Linked DNA regions of Homo sapiens. The protein of the gene in region 1 purifies or fractionates together with the protein of each later gene. This does not show direct contact. Each region holds a gene or a part of one and is shown on either strand. Other genes may lie near its edges.

What was found.
Region 2: the proteins of SLC9A6 (region 1) and CDK20 purify together in Homo sapiens (affinity purification with mass spectrometry; 3 studies listed by BioGRID and IntAct, with this or other methods). This does not show direct contact.
Region 3: the proteins of SLC9A6 (region 1) and MAN2A2 purify together in Homo sapiens (affinity purification with mass spectrometry; 2 studies listed by BioGRID and IntAct, with this or other methods). This does not show direct contact.
Region 4: the proteins of SLC9A6 (region 1) and TBC1D32 purify together in Homo sapiens (affinity purification with mass spectrometry; 3 studies listed by BioGRID and IntAct, with this or other methods). This does not show direct contact.

What each region holds. Positions count from the first base shown.
Region 1 is NC_000023.11:136,008,526-136,013,890, reverse strand, and holds part of SLC9A6 (sodium/hydrogen exchanger 6), read right to left. Parts: intron 3,450-5,365; coding exon 3,308-3,449; intron 943-3,307; coding exon 837-942; intron 543-836; coding exon 454-542; intron 1-453. UniProt on the Homo sapiens protein: Endosomal Na(+), K(+)/H(+) antiporter. Mediates the electroneutral exchange of endosomal luminal H(+) for a cytosolic Na(+) or K(+).
Region 2 is NC_000009.12:87,968,738-87,971,533, forward strand, and holds part of CDK20 (cyclin-dependent kinase 20), read right to left. Parts: intron 2,599-2,796; coding exon 2,410-2,598; intron 2,161-2,409; coding exon 2,039-2,160; intron 1,909-2,038; coding exon of another isoform or gene 1,894-1,908; coding exon 1,831-1,893; intron 1,183-1,830; coding exon 1,059-1,182; coding exon of another isoform or gene 1,038-1,058; exon of another isoform or gene 1,037-1,037; intron 613-1,036; coding exon 457-612; intron 131-456; exon of another isoform or gene 1-130. UniProt on the Homo sapiens protein: Required for high-level Shh responses in the developing neural tube.
Region 3 is NC_000015.10:90,916,802-90,920,301, reverse strand, and holds part of MAN2A2 (alpha-mannosidase 2x), read right to left. Parts: intron 2,109-3,500; coding exon 1,914-2,108; intron 1,658-1,913; coding exon 1,547-1,657; intron 668-1,546; coding exon 515-667; 3' UTR 1-514.
Region 4 is NC_000006.12:121,303,481-121,306,980, forward strand, and holds part of TBC1D32 (protein broad-minded), read right to left. Parts: intron 1,354-3,500; coding exon 1,275-1,353; intron 1,146-1,274; coding exon 1,042-1,145; intron 947-1,041; coding exon 885-946; intron 282-884; coding exon 137-281; intron 1-136.

The sequences.
Region 1 (5,365 bases):
GCTAATCTTACCTATGTCATGTCTTAGAAGGTCTAGTAATATCAGAAGTTAATTTTCTTTATGTCATCTCTTAGTAGGTCTGGTCAGATCAGAAGTTAACCTTATCTACGTCACACAGCAGTAGTTCAAGTAAAACCAGAGTGAGCTTCCAAAACATTCCCCTTAAAAGCCATTAAATTGGGAAAACACTGAGAAAAAGGGAAGCTACTTCACTGGTTATTGAAGCCACAATAGTAACAGTCTCTGGCTATTCTGCTGATCTATTTCCACCCTAAATGCTGTCATTCTTCATTTTGCCAATCCCACCTACTTTTAGAGTCAAAGGAAGAGGAGCCAAAATGAGTAGATAGCATCTTGAACAGATCAAAGACTATTTTTTTTTTTTAGTAAAAAAGACTTCTATTTTGCTGAAAGAAGGAAAAGCCTATTCACAAACTATAAAGTTCCTCTTACCTGTTTAGTTCTATGCTGAGACTCCGTGGACAAATTATTATACGTATAATGTGCTTGTGTGATGCCACAAAACAATACTGCAACTACACCTATAAAGACAACAAATTCCAAGTTCACATAAAAGGATGGTTCCCACCTTTTATACTGAGGTTCTTTCTTCACAGTAGATTATAGGCTTTGTCTGGAAATTCTCATTTGTGACTTACTTTGTTAAGAGGAACCACTTCCACTGAAAATTTTTTTTTATGTTCTAAAGCAACAACCTAAATCCCAACCACAATAAGTATGTTCAAATACTAACGGAGCTGATCCACTTGGAGCAAAATTGACTGGCAAAGTCACTCCTTTTAAGGGTTGACAATCAAAGGGAGCAAGTCACCTACCTGTGAAGCCCCATGCTTCAGCCAAGAGGAAGGTACTCCAGGACATCAAGAAGAACAGGCCTGTCTCCAACAACTGGAACTCCCGTAATTTGGTGAACTTTGTCACGTAAGACTGTTAAGGCTAGTAATGAGATCTTGTAACACAAAAGTGTGACTAGAAAAAATAACAGTTTAAGCAAGGCAACCATGAAAGAAAGGTTCTCTAGCTTCTCTAACACAGAAATCTCAGAATAAGGTACCACCAGAATAGGGAGACTTTTAAAATGAGCATCTTACTGAGGAGTCAGCTGCCTTCCCTTCAGTGAGGAAGCCTTACGGCTTAGCCACTCCAATTGTTTCACGGGTATCACACACCTTGCCAGAAACCATGCAGTAAAGGATAGATAGAGACGGGAGTAACAGATCAGATCTATAACATGCCACCTCTATTAATCTGAGACCCAAAGCTAGACAGCTTCCATAATTGTAGCAATTTACATTTATAAAAATACATAATTTCCAAGAGATTTTACACGAATTTGATCCTCTACCACTTCTATGATATAGAGCATTCATTCCATGATGAAGAAATTGAGGCACTTCACTGCTTTATACTAGTTTAACAAGTATTTGTTAGCTGACAGTGGAAGGGCCTGTGCCAAGTTACGACCAATCTCAGGCTAGAATCTAGAGTCATTTCTACAACTAGGCACTACAACAAAATGATTAACAAGATATACTTTCTACCCTCAAGGAACTTGTAATGGGGAAGAGATACTATCACTCTTGGCATCACCTTCAGAACTCTTTTTACTGCTGCTTTATGCCTCAGTTCACTTATAAAAAGCCATAAAAGAAGCCTCTTCCAGCACAAGGCTGAAGTATACCAAACTAAGAAGTCCTTGACAAAGAATAACGTATCTGTTTTATACAAGTATCATAGAAGTTTTAGAGCTGGAAACTTTTTTGTTTTGTTTTGTTTTTTTGAGACGGAGTCTCGCACTGTCGCCCAGGCTGGAGTGCAGTGGCACCATCTCGGCTCACTGCAAGCTCCGCCTCCTGGGTTCATGCCATTCTCCCGCTTCAGCCTCCCGAGTAGCTGGGACTACAGGCGCCCACCACCATGCCCGGCTAATTTTTTGAATTTTTAGTAGAGACGGGGTTTCACCGTGTTGGCCAGGATGGTCTCGATCTCCCGACCTTGTGATCCGCCCGCCATGGCCTCCCAAAGTGCTAGGATTACAGGCACGAGCCACTGCACCAGGCCAGAGCTGGAAACTCTTTAGACATCATCTAGTCCCACTCCTCTTTCCTACCGTCCCCACCCTCCAATTTCCTACACTGAGATCCAAAGAGGTGAAGTGTCAAAGCTTCTAGCATGTTTGTGTCTGCCACTATATCGAAAGCACCAGGGAGGCAGAGGTCATGTTTGTCTTCTTTAGCTTTGATACACAGAGCACAGCACATGTAGCAGGTGATCCAGACATGCCTTCTGGCTTTTTGTTTTGGGTGGGGGGTTTAAAACATGTTTTTAGGCCGGGCACGGTGGCTCATGCCTGTAATCCCAGCACTTTGGGAGGCCGAGGTGGGTGGATCACTTGACGTCAGGAGTTCGAGATCAGCCTGGCCGACATGATGAAACCCCATCTCTACTAAAAATATAAAAAAACTTGCTGGGTGTGGTGTTGCGCACCTGTAATCCCAGCTACTTGGGAGGCTGAGGCGGGGGAATCGCTTGAACTCGGGAGGCGGAGGTTGCAGTGAGCCGAGATCGTGCCATTGCACTCCAGCCTGGGCGAAAGAGTGAGACTCCGTCTCAAAAAAACAAATAAATAAATAAAAATAAAATTTGTTTTTATAGATTCAGGATGCACAAGTGCAGTTTTATGACATGGATATATTGCATGGTGGTGAAGTCCGGGATAAAATGGCCTTTGCATGAACACAAGAATAACTTGACTAAGTGGTAGTACCAGGACTACAACTCAGGTCCTTTGGGCTTCCCGTCCAGGGCTCTAGAGCACAAAGTTTAAAATCGGGAGAGCTGAGATGAACTCTTACATATCCTAACCAAGGAAACACATTTTGTTCATTCGGCGTCGCTGTTGTACATTTCCTATTTGTCCTATTAAACAAAGAGCAAAAGACTGCCAGGCTGACCAGCAACACAGAACACCCAGAGGCTCTTTGGAATATGTCTACCTTTACAGCTATTTAATCTACAACTATAAAATTCACCCTCAGAGAGATATCATCTCTAATTATACACTTGCAGTGAAAGTTTTAGGGCACCAAACCCTATGCAGAACAATACAGTTCTTTTATTTATTTATTGGCAAAGACTGTTGCTTAATGTTTTCAAACCAAGTACTTAGTTATAAGATTAATAATTCTAACATAATTCTAATCATAGAACTAGGAAAAACAACGGAATACAGCATTCAACTACTATATTATGTTAACAAGAAAAGATAAATATAACAAAAGGATATTAAAGCTGTCACCACTCCAGTAGCAGCACCCATTGCAAAAGATCCACTGAAGATTCCAAGGAAGATCCCAATAGACTTGAACATCGCTGTGACATCAAAGGTGTGACTGTTGTCTCCAGCTGGCTGGTATGCCACTATTGAGCTACAGAAGAGAGACTGCTTTTACTTCTGAAAACAACCTTTACTTTTAAAAAAACATTATGTAGTATAGAGCTTGAAAGATGAAATTAGAGGGAGAAGAAAAACAAGCTTTCGATTGGAATTGCCAAAATAAGGACAAAATTACCCAAAAATCCTGCAATGTATCTGGCTAGCAAGAAAACTTGGCTTTCCCTTAAATGTTAATTTCGGGGGGGGGGTAGAACATTGTAAAATCCTCTATATGAAAATTGCACCAAGCTTTTTCCCCCATCCCCAAGATACTGTGCAGTATTATTCTTTTGTGATTCTGTTTCAGAATTACTAGTACTGAGTGTCCGAAAGCCTTAACATACTAATGTGAACAAACTAATGAAAAATCCCACTTGTTTCCAGTAGAGGCATAAGAACATAAAGAACATTATTCAATACTCAACCCAGTCACATTTTGTTTTTCCTATGAGAAAAAAAGGTAACTGAAGGACCCTTCCAACTTTTAGAATTCTAGAATGGGCCAAATGCCTAATATCTATTCATTCACTGAAATGGACTATTATAGGAAAAAGCACTCGAAAGACCTCCCAAGGAATTAGAATCCACTCAACAGTACTTTCAGCATAACCAGCTGGATCTTCCACCTCAAACTTCTGAAAGAAAGTCACTCTATACCAGGCCAAGACAGGCAATTATAGGAGATGCTCTCCATCTTGAACTCACAGTCCAAACCTGGTCTGAAAAAGCTTCTTTTGTAACAGTTACCACCCCAGGAAATAGAAATGCCTGAGAAAATTGCTGTTGCCAGCAGGTCTTTGGCAACGGTGCTTACCGTTACTAAATCAGTTCTCATCTCAGTTAATTGAGAGACCAGCATTATAAAAAGTCCAGACTCAACAACATCATACAAATCACGTCAAAGAAAAGAAGGAAAAACACATTCCTAAAAATATAATGAATTCTCCCTGTGGTTGCTGCAATGTTTTTTTCTGATTCAAGGCTGAAAAATGTTTGCTATACCATATACAAGTTCTTTTCATATCTCCCAGGTTAAAAAAAAAATCTAAGATCAAACTAAAATCTCCTAATTTGTACTTATTTTATTGAAATATAGCACTAATATTAATTTCTGATAATGGGATCCAGAAATTTCTGAGACTCACTCTAAATTGAAAATGTTAAACATTTACGTTTAAATGTGCAAAGCAACCAGATCATTTTGGAACAGTAGATTTGATATCATTTTGATAAATATGAAATGGCCTTTAACACCATGCTACCTTACCTACATATATATAAAGGGTCCCACTACCATAAATGAGATCTGATTTCATTATAACATGAAAATACAGTAACTGGCTGGAGAAAAGAAAAAAATTGCTATACAATCTTCTTTTTCTTTGGTGGTATTTTTCAAAATGCTCTCTGGAACAAAATACCTATGCCATGCCTCCTGAGGTTGCTTTCCCTGGATTAGTTCATGTAAATTCAAGATTCACACTAATCATTATTTCATTCTTTAATCATTAAAATGTATAAGGACACATGGGAAACATGATGGGCTGAGAACAGATGACAGGCTCGTTTTGTTCTCTCTTAGGCAGACACTAGCCTCTGGATTGAAATCTTAACTCATCTTTTCTGTATCAATTGATATTTTATCTTGAGGCAGTAGCATTTTTTATGAATACTTTTTTTTAAACCCTGAAAGTAATAAAATGTACAGTTTAGGTGGAAAAATCTTCCCATCATTCCACTACCCTGATAGATCGATTTTATTTTCCTTCTGTATTCCTTTCCCCTCTTTGTGTTACATGCATGCTAATTCTTATTTAGCTGTAATCACAGTGAATGTGTGGTTTTGAATTATGCTTTTTTAACTGACAATGACATAAAAATATTCATAGTCTTGGCCGGACGCAGTGG
Region 2 (2,796 bases), on another chromosome or scaffold:
ACCTCACCACCAGGAGTGCCCCGCGGAGGTAGGACTGATTGTTTACCATCTGTGCAGGGCCCAGGACAATCCCTGCATGTGCCAGATGTGCAGAAAATACTTGCTAATGGAATAAAGGAATGAGTCCCCAGTGACTCTCTTACTGTATCTGCCACAGGGTCAGGGGCAGCCCAGAAACCTGCACTCCCGGACACGCGCTCTCCTGAGAGTTGGGCATGCCCCTCGTATGGGCCACCCTCAGGGGAAGTCTGGGGATGTCCAGTGGGGTCTACTCATGAGAGGCACACCTGCTCCAAGGCCCCTGTCCCCTGGGTTCCAGATGTCTGGTGCTGGTCCATGCCAATCACAGGTTCTGAGGGTCGCTGATGTGATGGGGTCACATGGCTACCAAGTACAGAGTACCAGGGTGATGGGGAGGGGAGCTGAAGGAGCAGAGACTACAGCCTCTCCCCCTACCTTGGAAGCTGCGATGCGCTGGTGAGGAGGGTAGAGAAGGAATTGACCCAGCAGATCCAATGCCTGGGGAGAGACGTCAGGCAGCACCTCCTCCAGGGGCATGGGCACCTGCTCCTTAAAGGAGATCTTGTTGTAGTCCGGCAGCTCAGTGAGCTCCTGGGCCAGGGAGAAGGAACAGGGTACAATGAGAGTAGTTCCCGACCCTTGCCATGCTCTCTGCTGTCAACTCTCAGCCCCTAACACACACTCACATGGGGGGTGCTCTCCCATCCATGTGTCTCCCTGACCCATCATTCATTCACTCACCCACCCCTGTATTCCTTCATCCATCCCCTTGCCCTCTCAGATGACGACTCTGTGCACAGCTTGCTGAGACACTGCACATGTGTGTACTGGGGTGAAAAGGGACAAAGGACAGGATCTACCCCAACCCAAATGACAGCAGGAAGGAGGAAGCCCTGAGTTGGGCCAGGACAGTGGTCCCTGTCCATCAAGGGGGGTTGGGGCCAGGAGAGAGAAGGTTCAGGGGAGGGAGTGGTTACTTGCTGTTGGGAGTGGAGTAAACCTGCCCCACACCCACCTCACCAAGGGCCCCTACAAACCGGCCAGACTTGAGGGTTTGGGGTGCCCAAGATGCGAAGCACATAGCAAAGCTGTTCAATATCGTTCTTGCCCGGGAAAAGGGGGGACCCATTCAACAGCTCCCCCATGATGCAGCCCACAGACCTGTGGACACAGAGCCCCAAGCAGGTCAGAGATCTCCCACCATGGACCACAGACCCACCCACAGAGCAGCTCTAACACTGCACTCCAGGGCAAGGCCCCACAAGCCAGCCCTGGAGCCTCACGTCCAGAGGCCCAGTCCCTGAACCCTCAAAGCCCTCAACCCTAGAACCCAGAGCAAAGCCCCAGCTGTTCCAAGACTTCTCGGAGACTCCTGCTCTAGGACACTTCTGGGGCAGACCTGCAAACCTGCCCCAAATCTCAGACCCATGGGCACTGCCAACTATCTTCTTGCTGCAAAACAAGCTCAGAGCTTTCATGTCCAAGGACACAGGCCTCTGACCAGCTCAGAGATGCCATATCCTAGGATCTAACTCCAGCACATATCGGCTCAGACCACCTCCCCATCTAGCCCAGAAAGCTTCCCACCTGGGACCACCATTCTCATCCCACCTGGCCCCTACCCAGCTCGAAAACATCATAGTGAGGAACCCCAACCCCAAAGTGCTCAGAATACCCCAACCAGGGAAGACACCCTTAAGGAAGCCTAAACTCCCACCAGGGAAAAGACCACCAAACAGCTCAGAGACCTCAGAGCCTAGCAGAAATCCATGAGCCATGTTACCCTTTGACCACCCACAGGGGTCTCACCACAGATCGACGCCCTGGTCATACTGGCGGGCACCATACAGGAGCTCGGGGGCTCGGTACCACCTGCGAGGAAGAGGGCTGGCAGGCACTGGGCTGAGAAAAGGATGCCTGGGGAGGTGACCCCAGCCCCACAAGCAATGTCTGGAGAAAAGGCCCAGAAGCATCTCTTCCCCATGGAGAAGACTGGAAGGGATCTGGCCCTCCCTACCTGGTGGCCACCTGGTGTGTGTAGAGGCGGCTGCCGTCTGGGGAAAAGACTCGAGCCAGGCCAAAGTCCGCTATCTTGAGCTGGCCTGAGGCGCTGATGAGCAGGTTGGCAGGTTTCAGGTCCTGGGAGTACCAAAAGAAGCATCAGTCCCTCCAAATCCCCCATAGGACCTTGGGACAAGCGGGCTTGGCAGTCTAACCACTCAGGTCAGCCCCGGTCCCCACCTCCTCCAGGGCCATGCCCTGGCCACTTACCTGGAGGCCTTGACCAGCTCTGTCCCAACTTCTTATCACACCTTTTACAAGGGCTAGCCCCATCCCCAAGCCAAGTCAGCTCCCCAGACCCCATGCCCGGCCTATGCTGAGACTGACCCGATGTACAATGTTGTTGGCATGGCAGAAGGCGACACCCTTGAGCAGCATCTGCAGGTAGCTCTTGACCTGTGCCTGGGCTAGTGGCCTCTGGGCATGGCGCACCACCTCGGCCAGATCCGACAGCATGAACTCAAAGGCCAGCACAAAGCCTCCACCGTGTGGGAACACAGCCTTCAGTTGTACCACCTGTGGGCAGGACATCTTGTTAGCCCCCAGACTCAAGTCACCAGACCCTCTCTGTGACCCTGAGACCCCAGCCCATGCCCTGACAGAGGACCCTGTATCCAAAAAGACAGTAAGCAAAGAAGGTGACGTGGACCTGAGCTAAGAATCAGAGAGCTCGATGCTCATGATTTGCTCTGCTCTCCTGAGATAAGGTGTGCC
Region 3 (3,500 bases), on another chromosome or scaffold:
TGCTAACTCTGGGTCCCCACCCCTGTCCTCCCAGAGTCACTCTGATCCTGCTCATCACACCAGGACATGGAGTCTCTACATAACCACAGGATTCCCCTAGAGCCTGCTGTTGCCACAGTGACCCTGATGCTGGGCTGTTACCCACTTAGCCTCCCTTACCTCTTCTGTCTGCTTCCACCACTTCTATATCCCTGTTTGGAAAAAGGATGGGTGCCTGAGCCTGTGCCCAGTTGGGTGTCCACTCACAACCCAAAGCAGAGCCTGGCACTGCCCACTCTGACCAAGGGCCTTCTCTCCCTGATCTCACTGGCGTCTGCCCTATTTACCCATCACTGGGTTTGTGGGTTGCGCCGAAAACACAGCAGCAGCAATAAACAGAAAATGAGGGCAGAGCCCAGTGTGTCACAGTTCTGGGAGGCAGATCGGGATGGGATACCCGTGTGGCTTGTCCAATGATCTTCATGTTAAGAGGCAGTCTCTGTGAATGAACTTTCTCTTCAGGCCACAAGAAGCCCTAACCCAAGCGGAGGCGAAAGGTAGCAATCTCCATGGGCTCCAAATAGACGTCAGTGCTGTTGGACGGGGAGGCCAGAGGGTACAGTAACGTCAAGGAGGTTGGCTGAAGGAATACCACATCCAGGCCATGGAAAAGGCTGCCCAGGGCTACCTGTGGAGAGCAGAGAAGGGGCAGGGTTGTGCTAGGTGCCGAGACACTAAAGAATGTGGCTGTTCATCTACAATTTGGTACCTCTTTAAGAATCTCAGCCAGGGGCAGTGGCTCACACCTGTAATCCCAGCACTTTGGGAGGCCAAGGCGGGTGGATCACCTGAGGTCAGGAGTTCGAGACCAGCCTGGCCAACATGGCGAAACCCCGTCTCTACTAACAATATAAAAATTAGCTGGGCGTGGGGGCAGGCGCCTGTAATCCCAGCTACTCGGGAGGCTGAGGCAGGAGGATCACTTGAACCAGGAGGCGGGGGTTGCAGTGAGCTGCGATCACGCCACTGCACTCCAGTTCCGGCTGGCCCCTCTCAGCAACACCATGCCTTCTTACACATGAGTGTGCATCCAGTCTCACGGGCTTGCTGAGATTTGCTCAACCCTAAAGCCTGCCTACAGATCTCTGGGTAAGAACCGTTCCACTGAGCTGTGAGCTCTGTGAAAACAGTGACCATGTCTTGGTTCACTTCTGAAACACTGGAGCCCAGCAGAGGACCTGGCACCCGGGGACATTTATCAGTGCCGGCTGATATGAGCTTACAAAGTAACAACAGGATGGGTTCTGGTTTTCTATTTCTGGTGTTTTCCACTTTGCTTGATAGAGGTCCCTGCTCAGGGAACAAAAGTTCTCAAGCGATCTACCTTGTCTGGAACTCCCCCTGCCAGGCCTCCGGAGCTCTGAAAACATGTCTACAGCTTCCCCCCTTCTCTCCAGAAAGCCCTGGAGTGACACTTTCTTCTCCCAGCCTGTCACCGAATCTCAGCCCAGTCTTACCAAGCTCATGCCTGCCATTCCTAGGTGCTCTGTTTCCCCACCCTACTCACCTTGCCTTGGCTTGTGGTGCAGTTGAAGCCCAAGTTCTTGGCCTCCAGGCCGCAGTCAAAACCCTTGCGGTGTAAGATGAGTGCGGTCTCCGCCGAGGGTAGGGTGTCCTCCTGGATGACAGACAGTGCCCAGGGAAGTGGGCGCAGGGCTTTCAGAGATCGGAGATGCAGCAGCGCCTCTGCCCAGAGGCAGTGCTGGCACAGGGAGGCGTGTGGGTAAGGAAAGGCCAAAACCTGGTCCTGGAGGTTTGGAGCCGAATACCTGCTAAGGGGTCTGGACCTCATCCTGGAGGCTAAGGAAGGAGCTGAGCAGGGAGGGACACCATCAGAACTCTGCTCTCAGCATGTCACGCTGAGGGACACTCACCTCAGCCTGGAGCGTACGTAGGTTGAGCAGGTGGAAGTCACAGGGCAGTGAGGAAGCCAGAGGATGAAATGAGCGCAGACCAGGGCCTGGGAGCTGCATCCTGGCTACAGGCAGAGCGAGCGCCGGGGCGTTCAGGTACATGGAGGTCAGGTGGCTGAGGAGGGATGGGTAGCTGGTAGAGTGGCTATCTTGGACCTGCAAAATTGACCCGAGATATTGGTGAGGGACCAAAGCCAGGCTGAGGGGAGAGGACGAGGCAGGATAAAAGCACACCCAGGTCAGTTGTTTTGGAAAGACCTTTCCTGGTGTGCCTGGACTCAAGGGCACGCCTGGCTCCAGGCGAGGTTCCGCTAACCCTTCAAGTGTGGACATTTGCCGTCTCCCCTAACGCAGAGGGCTACTTCACTAAGCTGTTTCTTCTCTACTTTTTAGTTCCTTGCTCACATAACACTATCATGAGCAACCCACTCCCATCAGCCATGTCTCCCCTCACACATGGATCCACAGTGCAGGGAGGATGGCAGCCAGGCAGACGCAGGCCTCACCATGGAGCACGGACCTCCAATCCAGAGTGCTCTGGGTAATCTGCGGCTTCACGAGCGATGCCACATCCACAGTGCCAGCCTGGCTCTCAGGCCCAGCGCGGCCGGGGCTCTGCCAGCAGGGCTACTCCTTAGCAGCTCACCTGGACGTCAGACTCACAGGCCTGGGCTGAATATTCTGGACTTCTGTCCCTGGCATCCCCCTTCTTCCAAGCGCCCAGCATCTCTCACTTCCCTCTGCATTCCCAGGTAATGCTAAACCCTCTTCCGTCGCACCTGGGCAGTGTCCTCATAGCCACCGGCAACTTCTCCAGCCTCTGGCCTAGTTCAAGCAGCCAGCATGTCCTGCCTGAACAGCCTCCCGCTGTCACCCTCCTCCAGTCTCCCTTCCCACAGATCCAACCTGCTCCGTACTGTCAGCGTGACATGCTGAGACCAGAGTTCTGACGGTGTCCCTCCTTGCTCAGCTCTTTCCTTAGCCTGGACCTTTCCTAGCCAGGATAAAGTCCAGATCCCTTAGCAGGCACTCAAGGTGCTCTGCCGTCTGCCCTGATCTCCCCCTAGCACTCTAGCCCAGCACCAGCCAAGAGGGCATTCTGCAAGGATGGAAATATCCGACACCACATGGTCTAATACGGCAGCCACTTAGCCACTTGAGTACTTGAAGTGTGGTCAGTAGGAATAAGAAAGCAAATTTTTTACTTGATTTAGTTGTAATTTAAATAGCCATATAGGGCTACTGGCCACCGTACTGGATAGCATAGCTCCAGCATAACTAAGGAACTCACTGCTATTCCCCAGCCTGTTGTCTTTCCTGCCTCCTATCCTGTGCCCTGGTTCATATCTTCAAATCACACCCCATTCATCAAAGCCACACCTGGGTGACACCTCCTTGACCTCGATCTCCTTAGCCCACATTATTACCTTGCTCCTCAGGATCAGTGAGACAAAGCCCTTTCTACCTTGCATTTTTACACACATGGCTTCTCTGCCACCCCTACTCACGAGTAAACTCCTGGGAGAGTCAGCACTGTCTGCACTTATG
Region 4 (3,500 bases), on another chromosome or scaffold:
GTTTTATAAGAAATAAATGAGCTAACACATGTAAAAGTGATTAGAACTCTTAGCACACAGTATTCAAACATTAACTATTTATTAAAATGATATAGCAATGCACTAAAAGGTATAAAAATATTCTATTTTTCCTTACCATCCACTTTTTGAACCACACAGCCTTGGTATCAACTAATGCAAAAAAGTAGATCGGATCCAAAATCTTTTGTGAGACAACATGGCTTTGATTATGTTTAACTGTTAACAAGGACAAAGTACTCTCCACAATTTCTTCCATATACCTTAAAGTTTGGGAAAAAAGAAATACAATTACACATATAGTTCTGGTGGTATACTTTATATTCATGGAATGATAAAGTAGCATATAATCTTCAGAAACATTTTTTCTATTTCAGTAAATGACAGGTAGGATTCATACTCAATGTTTCTGCTTTAACTACAGGTTCTTTCTACTTCAACACTGGATCTGTGAATTTAACTTTCCTTTTCAGACTCACAGATTATCTTACAACTTAGTATAAATTTTAGAGCTGAAAGGAAAAAGTTTAAAGAATATTTAAGGAACTTGTCCAAAATGCAATAGCAAAGACCAATAAGAACCTAACGCAGACCTTCAAATCACTGATACATTAAAAAAAAAAAAAAACTAATGCTACATTTTTTTTACCTTGTGATAAATGATGTAAAGTGGTACCTGTATACAGTAATTCACATAGCTAAGTATAAAACATGACAAGCTGAAGAAAAATAAAAATAAAAATTTTATTAATCCCTTCCCAATCAGGTAAGTCCATTAAGACTGTCTTTACTCTTTCTGTCTGAAACGTATATGGGGCAGTAACACCGCTAGGTTTTATGCTGGCATACATTGGGAGGGGACTTACTTCTCTGGATGACGAATCCAGAAAGATGGAGCTTCTTTCTGATATTCATTTAGAAGACGAACCTACAAAGCAGTGCACAATAGTTCTCAAAAAATTAGCATCCTCAAATATAAAACTAAATAAATAAAAATGAAAGCATATTGTAGTAAATGGATACCTTTTTAAGTAAGCGAGTCATATTAGGATTAGTTATATCTACACCAGCTGAAAGAGTAGGAATATGATTTTCCCTAGAAAGAAAGTATGACTCCAAATACTTAGCTGAAAAAAAAGGGAAAACATAAAATTACATCATTCATTTACAGTGCTTTCTGAAAAAAATTATTTCCTATCCATTCTTAAGTACATGCAAATGACAAAAAACATTTTTAAATGTTTTCACAAACATACCTAAGCTTGTATAAATTTCCTTGGTCATATGTAATGGAGAAAGCAAAAATGTCTGTGCACAGAATTTTAAAATCCGGTCCTACGGAAATGAGACAGAAAATTTGCATCTAAGATCTCACAAGAATAGAATAGAGATGAAACATTTTTCACACAGTAAAAACTCAGAAAATAAAATAAATACAAATAAACCATTCAGAAACTAGAGTCAGAATGTACTTATTTAAAAAGGGCACACTCTGTGTCAGCAAAAATTAAAACTGACCAAAACTAATATGTGAATCTAATAACAGAAAGCTATTACTGCACAATCCGGTCATAGTATATACTGACATGGTGAGGAGGGGGTAAGGTGAGGTTTCATAGAGGAGACAATGTAAAGGTGTCAAACAAAGGAACAGAGTAGGCAGTACTAAATTTTTTTAACACCCCGTATTTCCAAATCGAAAATTCATCATTTTTAATTGCTTACATGGGTAGCTTCAGTAATTAGAGATTTAGAATTATTTCTAATAATTTTGCCTATTCCCAAGAAAATTACTCTATGTTTAAATTTTTACATTATTAAAACTCTAAAATAGAAACCATTAGAAGGTAAATAAGTTAAAAGTGGCAACAGATGTAGTTAGCATAATGCCTGGCACTAAGAGTTACTTTAAAATGGTAGCTATTATTATCCCTTTAATTATACCTACTTTATTAATATCATGATAAGATTAATCCTAATAGTGAAATTCAACTTTCCATTAAATAAAAACATAAAATTGCCTTAAATAGTCTAATCTGGGGGGGGATTAATAACACTGTTGATACCAGTTTAGATAATCCACTTACAAGAAATAGTTCCCCAAGTTACTGAAAATATCTTCTAATGGCCCCAAGAAATTCCTACTGAACAAAGGATATTAAATACTTTGGGAAGTCTATTTTTATAGTTGCAGCAACTGATAGGTATCTGTCATACTTTTCAACCCTATAGGCTTCACTCAGTTGCATGTAAGAGTCCTTTAGAGGAGGAGATGAAGAAATAGAATTGAACTCAAAAAGAATTTGGATCAAGCACAAATTTAAAATGAAAAAAACTCCATGCCTTGTTTTCTACTTCAAAATGACTAATTTTATTACCATCTCTCCTCTATAATAATTGCTTCCAATTTTATTAGCGTAAGTAATAAAACTGAACCTTGCTGCATAATAATTTAAAATGGCTACAATTTGCTATTTTGTAAAGTTATTTCATAATTTATAAAATAAAGGAAACCTATTCTGCTACTATTCTGTATTTATTAAGTAAAAGAAAAAATACGGGGAAATTTACAATTGCATCCGTCGTTAGAGAGCATGAAATGTTAAAGATAACCCTGAGATAATATGTTTTCACCTTGAAGTTCTTGGATCATTGAGCTGTTCCAGAAGTCTACAATACCCTCTGGTGTTAACAAGGTTGAACTGCATCCAAGTATTAGGTAAACACCTTCCCTTTATGAGAATTACAAACAGTGATTCCCAAACCACTTCTGTTTACCAGTATAATCATATCTTTATTAATGGTAGACAGTAGACTGATTTTAAATAGACAAACATATTGCGATACCTTAAATTTTTCTACAACTATTTATTTATCGTCTGTGTTATCTACTGAAATCTAAGTTCTCTGAGGGTGAAGATTTTGTGTCCTGTCCATGGTGTGTTCCCAGTGTCTAAACGAGAATGATACACACTGTAGATACTCAATATATATTTGCTGAACAAAGAGCAAAATGTAACTCTTCTGCTAATGCCTTAAATTCTATGCCAAACATCATATCGATTTTAAAGCCAAAACTATCTTCACTGATATATCAATTAGGAAGAAAAGATCCTCTATAAGGAAATCCAATTTGTGTTTAAAATGCAATTCTTGGATAATCAGGGGTTTTCTTTTCATTCCCATCATAGATACTACCTGTAGAATTACTGCACTTGTTAATGTAAAGCTTACTTTTCATCATATGATAACTGTTCCTAAAAAGTCATATGCAAACCAATTTTTAAATAAAATCATATCTACTGACTTCATAATTTTACAATTTTAGAAACTTTCTATATTTGCTTTATGATTCACCTCAAATTATTTTCTAAAATCTCAACATTAGTTTTCTAGCTTCTTTCTTTAAGCAGTTAAGCAATCTCTAAGTAAACACTTAAATACAAGAGGAAAATGTTTATAAGCCCTTTCGAATAAACCAT